2 separate regions of the Homo sapiens genome follow, and region 2 is linked to region 1. A link means that fine-mapping ties the variant in region 1 to the expression of a gene that starts in the linked region. Tissue or cell type: prefrontal cortex. Region 1 holds a variant in brackets; the other region holds the start of a gene. All regions are shown on one strand. Distances are from middle to middle.

Region 1 (5,149 bases):
TCAAAGAACTAAAAATCAAATTATCATTTCATCCAGCAACCTCACTACTGGGTATCTACCTAAAAGAAAATAAATTATTATATAAAAAGATATCTGCACTCATATGTTTATCACAGCACTATTCACAATAGGAAAGATACAGAACTAACCTATATGTATATGTGGTATATACATATTCCATGGTATGTATATACCACATTTTCTTTATCCAATCATACATTGATGGACAATCATACATGATTGGATAAAGAGTATAATTGTCCACGAATGTATGATTGGATAAAGAAAATGTGGTATATACATACCATGGAATACTACTTAGCCATAAAAATGAATGAAATCATCTTTTGCAGCAACATGAATGGAACTGGAGGCCATTATCTTAAATGAAATAACTCAGAAGCAGAAAGTCAAATAACACATGTTCTTGCTCACCAGTGGGAGCTAACTAATATGTACATACAGACACAGTAAATTTTTTTTTTTTTTTGAGACGGAGTCTTGCTCTGTCACCCAGGCTGGAGTGCAGTGGGCTGATCTCGGCTCACTGCAAGCTCCACCTCCTGGGTTCATGCCATTCTCCTGCCCCAGCCTCCTGAGTAGCTGGGACTACAGGCGCCCACCACCACGCCTGGCTAATTTTTTTTTTTGTATTTTTAGTAGAGACGGGGTTTCACCGTGTTAGCCAGGATGGTCTCGATCGCCTGACTTCGTGATCCGCCCGACCTCGTGATCCGCCCGACCTCCTGATCCGCCCGCCTCGGCCTCCCAAAGTACTGGGATTACAGGCGTGAGCCACCGTGCCCAGCCCAGACATAGTAAAATTAGTAGACACTGGAAACTCAGAAAGGTGGGAGGGAAGTAGGTGAGGGCTGAAAAATTACCTAATGGGTACGATGTTCACTATTTGAGTGATGGTTACACAAAAAGCCCAGACTGCACTACTACGAAATACGTCCATGTAACAAAACTGCACGTGTATCCCCAAATCTACAAAAATAAGAAATATATAATTTTAAAAAAATAAATAAAACTACAAAATGTTCTCATGAACAACTGGGCATATCATTTTACAAAGACCCTCTGTGTACCATGCAACATGTACCACCCACTACACGGCTTCCATTTCCACTTGCCAAGGTCTTGATATTGTGATATCCATGCCCAGATAGCATCACTGACCTCTGATAAGGTCAGAATACTGTCCTACCTCATGTATGCACAGCATGTCTCTGGGCCAAGCTGTTCTTATGTATATTCTTGTCTCTGGTTTACATGGGGAAATAGGCCATGTAACAAGAAAGGTCATGAAGTCAGAGGACAGCACACATGAGGACCTCAAGGGCATTCCAACCATACATGGTTGTCCATTTTTATGGCTCATATATCTTTCCTACCATCTTTGAACTCATAAAGCTGAATGAAAAAATCAATACATTTCCTTCAATGTCAGAAAATTCTGTGCTCAATTAACAGTCAAAATATTATCTTACAAATAAGAATATCTCTATATACTGCCATGGAGTGAATTCCAGGATTTTTTGAAAAGTTAAGAAAATAAAGTAGATAGAACTAACTGTATATAAAATTTTAACACTACCTACATGGAGGGATATATAAATACATCCATGTTGGCTTAGTTATTTTAAATAGAAGTATGTTATGGGCTGAGTTGTGTCCTCTCAAAATGTATATGTTGAAGTCCTAAGCCCCAGTACCTCAGTGCTGTATTGGATTGGAGATAAGGTCTTTAAAGAAGTAATGAAATTAAAATGAGGGGTCTTTAGGGTGGGCCTCAATCCAATCTGACTGCTAGCCTTATAAGAAGAGGAAATGTGGATACACAGAGAGACACCAGAGGTGCACATGCACAGAGGGAAGACCATGTGAGGACAGCCAGCCAAGGAGAAAGATCCCAGATGAATCTAGCCCTGCCAACACCTTGATCTTGGGCTTTCAGCCTCCAGAACCGTAAGAAAATAAATTTCAGTTGGTTAAGCTACCCAGTCTGTGATATTTTGTTTGGCAGCCCTAGCAAACTAATATAAAGGGTAATTTTAAAAGTTTTATCAAATGGTTACCTATAGGGTGGAGGAAGGAGCAAGGTGGAAAAAATATGGATAAAAACTAAATTTCCTTGAATATGCTTCATATTATACCTTTGACTTTAAAACCAGGTCAATATTCAAGCCAGGTACAGTGGTACATACCTGTTGTCCCAGCTACTCAAGAGGCTGAGATAGAAGGATAGCTTGAGCCTAGAAGTTTGAGACCAGTCTGGGCAACATAGAGAGATCCTGTCTCTTAA[G/GA]AAAAAAAAAGTCAATATTACTTACTTGTTAAACAAATGAAGGAAATAAAAAATGAAATGGACCAGATGGTGCTAACTAAAGGCTATAGTTTGAATGTGCTCCCAAAGTTTTTCTCTTGAAAACTTAATTGCCATTGCAAATACTGTTAAGAGGTGGGGTCTTTAAGAAGTAAGTAGACCATGAGGACTCTGCCTTCATGAATGGATTAATGCTGTTATTGTGAGAATGGGTTCCCGATAATTTTAGCCCCCTTCTTCCCTCCCCTCCTTGTGCTCACTTCCACCTTCTACCCTTCCATCATGGAATGACTGTTGCCAGATGTTAATGTCATGAACTTGGACTTCCCAGTCTCCAGAACTATAAGAAATAAATGTCTTTTCTTTATCAATTACTCAGTCTTAGGTATTCTGTTACAGCAGCAAAAAGTGGACTAAGACACTGAATACCAAGTTGACGGCTTAATCACTAGAGAACAATTATCTCAAGTTACATTAAAATTTGGTAATTTGACTGTGTAGATGATGGAATATACACCCTAAGGGCCAAAAAACAAAAACAAAGCCCACAAGTAAAATTCAAACTGTTTTCAGTTATCACATTGTTAGTAATAAAACAGGAATTGAGATTCTGAAATAGGAATAGAAAGATTGAGATACATACACACACACACACACACACACAGAGGAATGACAAAGCAAATAAGTAATTACATTGATGTGACTGATATTCAGCATAGGGACCCAGGTAAAATCAAAAAATGTCCTACAAACAATAAACAACCCCAGGATCAGTGAACACTTTTCTCAATGAACGCTACTTTTTATGCCTTTCTCTTTACTTTTATACATACTTGAAATCTTGCCTAATAAAAACGATATAGGTGGATGGATGAATAGATAGATAGATAGATAGATAGATAGATAGATAGATAGATATTCTCCTCACATTGTTCCTACATGATTTACTAGTATGGGTTTTACTCTGAGCAACCCAACTGTGCACTCAACTCCTGCTCAAATTTTGAATAAGGGGCTTGTTCACAATTGAAGCAAGGGGTTCTGACTTTCCTTTTTATTTCTGGAACACCGGCTAGGTATTGGCCATAGACTAGGATTAGATGACCCCAAGAAATATCTCATTCCTCCAGGAACTATTTTTCACTTTTCCAGTTTTTACCCGGAAAGTTTACTTGGTTGATTAATTCTGAAGAATTTGCCTATCTGGGCTTACAAAGATAGTATACCCCTCCAAAATAAGTTTCCAAGTATGAAATGGAAGGAGAGACATAAATAATACTTAATAAGGGCCTAGAACATAGTAGTTCAGTTTTTAAAATCCCTATAACTGTTATTCTTCTAGATTTAAAAAAGGTGAGGTGTGGTAACTTTCCTGGTAGAGCAGAGATACGAACCCAAGGTTATCTGTCTCCAAAGCCCACACCTACCTAGAGTGGTAATGCCTTCTCTGGAATTAAATGGGAGAGTTAACCCCGCCATATCCACTCCAAATGCATAAACCTAGACTGTGGATCCAGGTTTGAGGGACTACTGGCCAAGACAAGGGACATAGACCCTTCCCCAGCTCCACAGGAAGCCCTGCAAAGACCTTGTTTTTTTTGTACAACTTAATATTCATGTATCCAAACTGGATCTCATTTGGCACTTGCCCCTCTTTTGCCCAGATTTGTATGACAGTATGATGATGGAGCCCTCTCCAAGGATGTGCGTCAGTTCTCTTCATAGAAAGACAGTCTCCTTCTTTGATACATATCAGGAAAGGTCTGATTACTAATTTATTGTGGATGGTTACAGCCTCAAAGTTAAAAAGAGAGAACTGGATCACTCATTGCAAACAGAAGTTAAATCTCCTTGTTCTGCTTGTAAAACTCAAAATTTAAAGAACTTCAGGTAATAGAAAAACTGGACTAAAACTAGACAATGAGGTTCCTAAGATCTAGCCAGTTCTGAAGAATGGACTCCATGATCCCACTATCTAAGCTGTCACCTTGTAACAAATCAGCCCCGGGCCTTTCCTTCCTACATTGGTATTTTCACACATGGTGCTAGAGTGTGCAGGATTTCGTCTCTGAGTGACAGAATCAGGCAGCATTCTCAATGACCCCTAACCTTCGTCGTACTGTAGATGATCTAGCTTTGTATCTGCACATCTTTGCTCCTCCTTTTATCCTTCTTTTTCTCTTTTCCACCATTATCAGGCCTGCCTCCCTGCCTCTCTCCACTCCCCAGGACCCACCTCCCAATAACTACTTAATTCAATGGGTACCCAGTGGCTTTCTTGCTGCTTATAATTCCTGAGGTCTCAAAAGAAAACTTCAGGCACAGCCCTTGGTTTTGCACCTGGTCAGTAATGCCCAGCCAAATTCTAAGATTCTTGGATTAAACCATGCCCATTGCTCAAGAAACCGAAAGAAGACTGTTCAAACAAACATGGTAAATGTACAAACAAATGAGCCTGACCCTATTAAAACATTTTTGGAAAGAAGCAAAAATACAGACACGTAAAAATGCCTAAGTTTTCTCCGTCTACTTCCACACTCACCTTCAATCCTTGCAGGATTTTTCCAGTGTTCAGCATCTACCAAAAGAATCAACCAGACCATGAAATGGGCTAGAACAGAGTTGGACAAAGCACTCCTTTTCTTCCCATGTATTTTCACTATGAGGAAAGGTAAAGAGGCAGCTGGGCTTTATCGCTGTAGAGGCCCTTCACTGCCACCTGACCTCGAGCCCCAAGTCAGGGCCCTCTCCATGCCCCTAGGGAGACTCTGCAAGGATTCAGAGCCATGCATTTTGCCCTGGGACTCTCAACATTAGCCTGGT
Region 2 (5,149 bases), 200 kb before region 1:
AGTAGTAGAATGCTTGGCAAATACAATGATTTGTAGAATACATTGATACATATTGTGAAGTGGTTGAGAGACAGCCAGCAGTTGCCACAGCTGCCAAACTCCAGAAGAAGGCTGGTGTTGGTGCAGGGCAGAGCTTAGGGCGAAATGTGGTGGGCTGGGGACAACACGGAGGAGGGAGATTTTTCTATTCAGTGCCCAGTTGACTCCACCGCTGAGGGCCAGTATAGTGAAGTTAAAAACCAGTTTCACACACTGTGATGAAATTCTATAAACTCAGGATTATCCTGTCAAATCAAGATGACATGCGTCCCATTGTTTAAAAACATTCTAATGGATGGAACTTAGCAAATACTGCTAAGAACAGAACCAGCCGGGCTATGCTGCAGCGTCTCAGACATGTTTCCACTCGCTGCTGCGATGTGTTTGTCAAAGAGTTTACTTAGAGAGCTGCAGAGCTATCAGAGAGGAGAAGAGAAGCGCTTCGCCCTCACTTGAAGAACAGTAACTGCAGTCAAGCAGAAGACACTTCAAACAAACAAACAGACAGACAGACAGACAGATCTCCCCACTCATTCTACTGGTCTTGTGCTTACCTTTCATTTTTCTTGGCCTCTTGCTTCCCCTCTCTCTGATGGCATCTTAAAGGACTCAATGTTGAAATGGTAGCAGGCAGCAGCCCATCTGAAGGTAGCATTAGCATTTGAGAGGAAAGATCTTGAGGACTGAGTGTGCTTAGCCACTGTGCACCTCGAACCTGCATTGTTCCTCGGTTTTCCTATGGAGAAGGATCCCCCTGTGTGGGACTGGCATCCTCTGAGGACTGCAGGACTGTACCTGGGTGATGAGAAAGGAAGCCAAGGCCATAGCACTATAATTGCAGTGCTCTGCCTTAAAGTCCAGCCTCGAGCCTGCGGCTCGATTTTCCAGTAAGCTGAGAGCATGGAGAACACCAGAAAGCCATTTCGGTTTCTGCTTATTTCTTCTCTACAGATTTTGAGGGTTGAAAAAGCACATTCCAGAAAAGGCAGTGGAAAATTCTAAAATAAAAGTGAGGCAGAATCAGAGTGAGGGGCATGTTGAGAATGCCCCTACCATCTTGAACGGAGCAAAAGATGGCTCATATGTTGACAGCTCCCAATCCCCCACTTCTGGAGCAGATTTTCCAGGGGGAAGGACATTACAGAGTCCAGATGCCTCTTCCATGATTCCAGCACCTCTAATGTTGTAAGGCCGTGTTATGAGCACCCTAAAGATGGCACTTCAGCACACAGTTCTCGAAATTCTGACCATTCTATCTTCTTTTAAATCCCTCTGTTTTTCCAAATCCTAAAGCCCTGTGACACACCAGCAGCCGGTAAGCGTCTTTCGAGAGAAGGAGCAGGCCAGCAGGGCCCCCACATCTTCTTTCCTCAGCTTCATCCCAGATGCCTGGTACTGTCTCAAGACTGCAGGCACTGAAACGTGACCCCGGTGTCTCAGGCTGAAACAGCAAACTCCCAACCGAGTTTTAAATTCTCAACAATTTGTGGAAATTATGAGATTTTTATGAGCATGTATTTTACAGGACTTCCTAGAATGCCTTTTTGAGAACCCTGGAAGGGGAGGAAGGAAATATCACCCTAGGGGAAGCAGAATTAAATGTGTACTCTCTCCTGTCTCTCTTTTTCTCTCCTTCCTTCCAGCCCATTGAGAAATCTACAAGCCATCCATCGTCTGACCCCGTAAATTTGTCTTTCTGAGGTAATAAGATGACACAGCCTTTGCCAGGTCAGATGCTACTTTCATAAAAAGTGCTGAGTTGGTGACCCAATGCCGTGAATAAGGATATAATCAAATTTCATATTTCTTCCTTGAGCTTCAGCAATGACGCCCACTTTTCATGGATTGTTACTCAGGGAGGACGCATAAATGCCTCTCAGAATCACCTAATTCAATCTTCATAACAACAGTCTAGGTGAGATGGCTTTGTCCCGTTGCAGGCGAGTTCCAAGCACAGAGAACCAAATGGTTTCCACAGAGAACATGTGTAGAAGGGATTGTAACCCACAACTGTCTGAACCCAAGCACTAAGCTTCAAACCAGACTCTGTGCTGCTTCTGCTTTATACACAGGCCCTGGCTGAAAACCCTTGACTTTACCAGGCATGCAAGGAGATGCTAAGTCCACTTTGGCTGCAGGTAAGAATTAAGTAGGACTAACCTGGGTGTTACTAATAAGGAGTTCAACCAGGGCCCAGCAATCAAGGAGGGCTTCGTGGAAGAGGTGGAACTTGGAGTGGCCTGGAAGAATCGCATAGAATCAGCAAAACCATGGAAACGACAATGAGCAGGGAACACACACAGGTCCCACTGTGACAGAATGCACATGGGTGATGAGCAGACATGTCCTCAGATGGGTAGGCAGGACCCTGGAAAACAGGAAATGGAGTCTGTGTTTGACAGCAGAAGCAACGGCAACCACTGTCATCTCATTCATTCATTTAATAATTGTTTATTGAGGGTATCATGTCAGGTGCAGTTCTTAGTGATAGTGACCTAGCAGTGAGTAAGCCAGGCTGAGTCCCTGCCCTCAAAAACCTCAAGATCCAGTAGTGGGCCAGATGGACATTCATGATGTTTAATAGATCAAGTAGAGTTCCCCTTCATTGATATCTATTTCTAAAGATGTCTGTCTTCCCTTCTAACAGATCTCTAAACGACCACGGCCCGAAGTGTCAGTTTCAAATGCTTGTTTCAGCTCTGCCCTCCCCACATCAAATCCCACCTCTCTCACGCTAAAGCATCATAATATATTTGTGCTGAGAGTTGCCTTAGAAATCATTCAGTATTCAGTTCACGGGGGAAGAAACAGAAAGCCCCTAGAGGTGACCTCATTAGCCTACAGTTGCCCTGAGAACTGGTGGCAGAAGCAGATTGGTGTCCAGCCTCCTGATGTACATGCCAGTGCTCTTTCCCCCAAGCCATGTGTCTCCTGGTCACGCCCTTTGTCCTTGCTGTCCTCTACTATTCTCTTCTGGAAGACTCACGATGAGAGAGCCGACTTCTCCAAGCTGCACTCCTAGCTCTCTGGGACCCAGCAGGGACCGCTGCCTTCCAGCCAGCAGTTTGAAGAAGGACAGCTACCATCAAACACAGACTTACAGCCTCCCTGATGCCCTGGATGCCAGGAAATGTCTGGACCAGTCAAGATAAGAGCAAGGCAGAGCCAGGAAGAAATGGGGACAGGAGTTCCTATTTAAATATATAAAGAATCCTTTCCTAGGTAGAGAAAAGTCATCTAGCAATGTGACTGATCACCTCTCCGTTTATCTGTTTGATCAACTGGAATTTCTATACAGAAGGTTTATACAAAGAAGCCACAAACAACCATTGTCACAATGACCCCTACATAATTCCTTGTGTAAATGCTCTGGAAATGCACCCAGAAGTCTGGAGAAGGTCCAATCAAACTGGGTGGCAGGAAGAAGCAAGCTCTGTTCTCAGATCTTCAACAGAATCACCTGGACCCTGGGGTTGCCACCACGCTAAGCCAAGGAGGCCTCTGAATGCACGGGAGTGCAGGGTCTGAAGGGAGTTGTTAAAAGGTGTTTCTTGATCCAGGACCATGTAAAGACCCAGGAGAAATAGGTATCCCAAAGAGAACAGCGTATAAGATTCACAAACCAATGACAAACACGCTGGGTTCGCTGCTGGTCTCCACAGTTGGTTGGTTCTGTAGGGCTCAGCTGCCTCTTTCTCTCTACTTCTGGTTTCAGAAAACACGAGAGAGAAGCCGAGTGCTCATGGAGTTTCCTCAAAGACTCAGCAAAAACTAGGCTTTGTGTTCTGAGATCAGGAAGTAACAGTGAGAGTCCAAAATTTTCTTCCCTGACAATGTCTCCTACTCAAGCAGGGCCTGGAAGTCACCCCCTAGAATCAAAGCCTTGACATATGCAAGCTCATAGTTTATTGCTTCTTCTCCCATCTGCCCGTTGACAGATAAATCCCAGAGGGAATAAAAACACATTGCCCTCAGCAGATTATTCTTCACTGAAGAATACCAGTCTTTTAACACTCCGCTACAGAAATAGCTTTCTGCCGGCTGATGGCTTGTTGCGCTGCACTAAGAGAGCCCGCACACCTCGAAGCTTCGTCAAGCAAAGCCTATGATTTCACAGACCCAGAAATGTTTTCTTTCTCTAAGCCAATAACATATGCTTGGGTTTATGCCAACTCTACCAGAGGCGCACAGATACAATGAGGCATGAAGTTCAGAATAATAGAAAGTAGAGAGTTGGAAAGCACAGGAGAACCCATCTAGACCAACCTGTTTTGTTGAAAAAGGAGCTCCCTGACCCAGAGAGGTTAAGGGTTTGCTGTGAGACGGTGCCCCTGGTTAAAGGCAGCATGAGATGCTGTCCTCTGATCCCCAGCTTCCTAGGGCTCTTGCCTCTAGGTCACACTGCCTTGAGGCCAGGAGCTGATATTGATTGAACAGATGTGAAAACAGAAGAAAAAAAAATTGTGGTGACTGCCCTCTGACAATTTTCCACTTTCTTTGGACCAATTTTCTTTGCCATTATCTGGAAAAAAAAAAAATGTCCAGAAGAGCATTTTAAATTCAGGAAGTGGTTCTGGAACTAGGAGAAGACACACCTTGATGACAGTAATATTGTCTAAGTGAGAAGGAACAAGCTCTTGAATGTTTCTAGAAAAACCAAATATGATAGGAGACCATAAAATTATACTTCGTCATATGGATTTCCAGTTTGAGAAAACTTAGTGGCTAAACAAAGGTGCCGCTTGAGAGATGCAGACAGAAATCAGCCTCTGCTTTAAGAACAAGTTGCTACGCTGAAGAATGAGAAGAGGAATGGGGCCCAGAGGCTGAAGGTCTGGACCAATCTCCCTTCCCAGATAAGCGCCTGGACCCTCGTTCCTCAGAAGCCACGTGTAATTACCAGCTCTTTTTGGCTACAGAGCACATGCCCAGGAGGCTTGGAGAAGCAGGAATTTAAAACATGCTAGTTTCAGAGCCAAGATTGGTGACAACACCATCAGTTACTGTTTGGGCTTCGGGAAGCCGTGGGCTGCAGCACTGGGTCTGGTGTCCTGGGCTGTGTGGGACCTCAGCAAGGTTGTTTCCTGAAATGAAAGCTCCTCTTCTGGGG

Direction of the effects. Alleles are on the strand shown, and positions count from the first base shown. SD is a standard deviation of normalised expression in the study named.
For the expression in prefrontal cortex of the gene that starts at base 2,213 in region 2, allele G in region 1 goes with a higher level than allele GA (large effect, 0.77 SD a copy in CommonMind).

The links. PIP is the estimated chance that this variant, and not a neighbour inherited with it, causes the effect.
Region 2: it holds the start of LINC01622, and the variant in region 1 is fine-mapped to the expression of LINC01622 in prefrontal cortex (CommonMind, PIP 0.95).

What each region holds. Positions count from the first base shown.
Region 1 is chr6:1,303,715-1,308,863 of GRCh38, forward strand. No RefSeq gene overlaps it. Among named protein-coding and RNA genes, the nearest start is that of FOXQ1, 5.8 kb to the right of the region's middle. The variant G/GA (reference allele first, on the strand shown) is at 2,309.
Region 2 is chr6:1,099,120-1,104,268 of GRCh38, forward strand. LINC01622 (long intergenic non-protein coding RNA 1622) reads right to left here and starts at 2,213. Exons shown (of 4, transcript NR_027116.2): 1 at 594-2,213. RefSeq lists enhancers at 1,325-2,524, 4,970-5,149.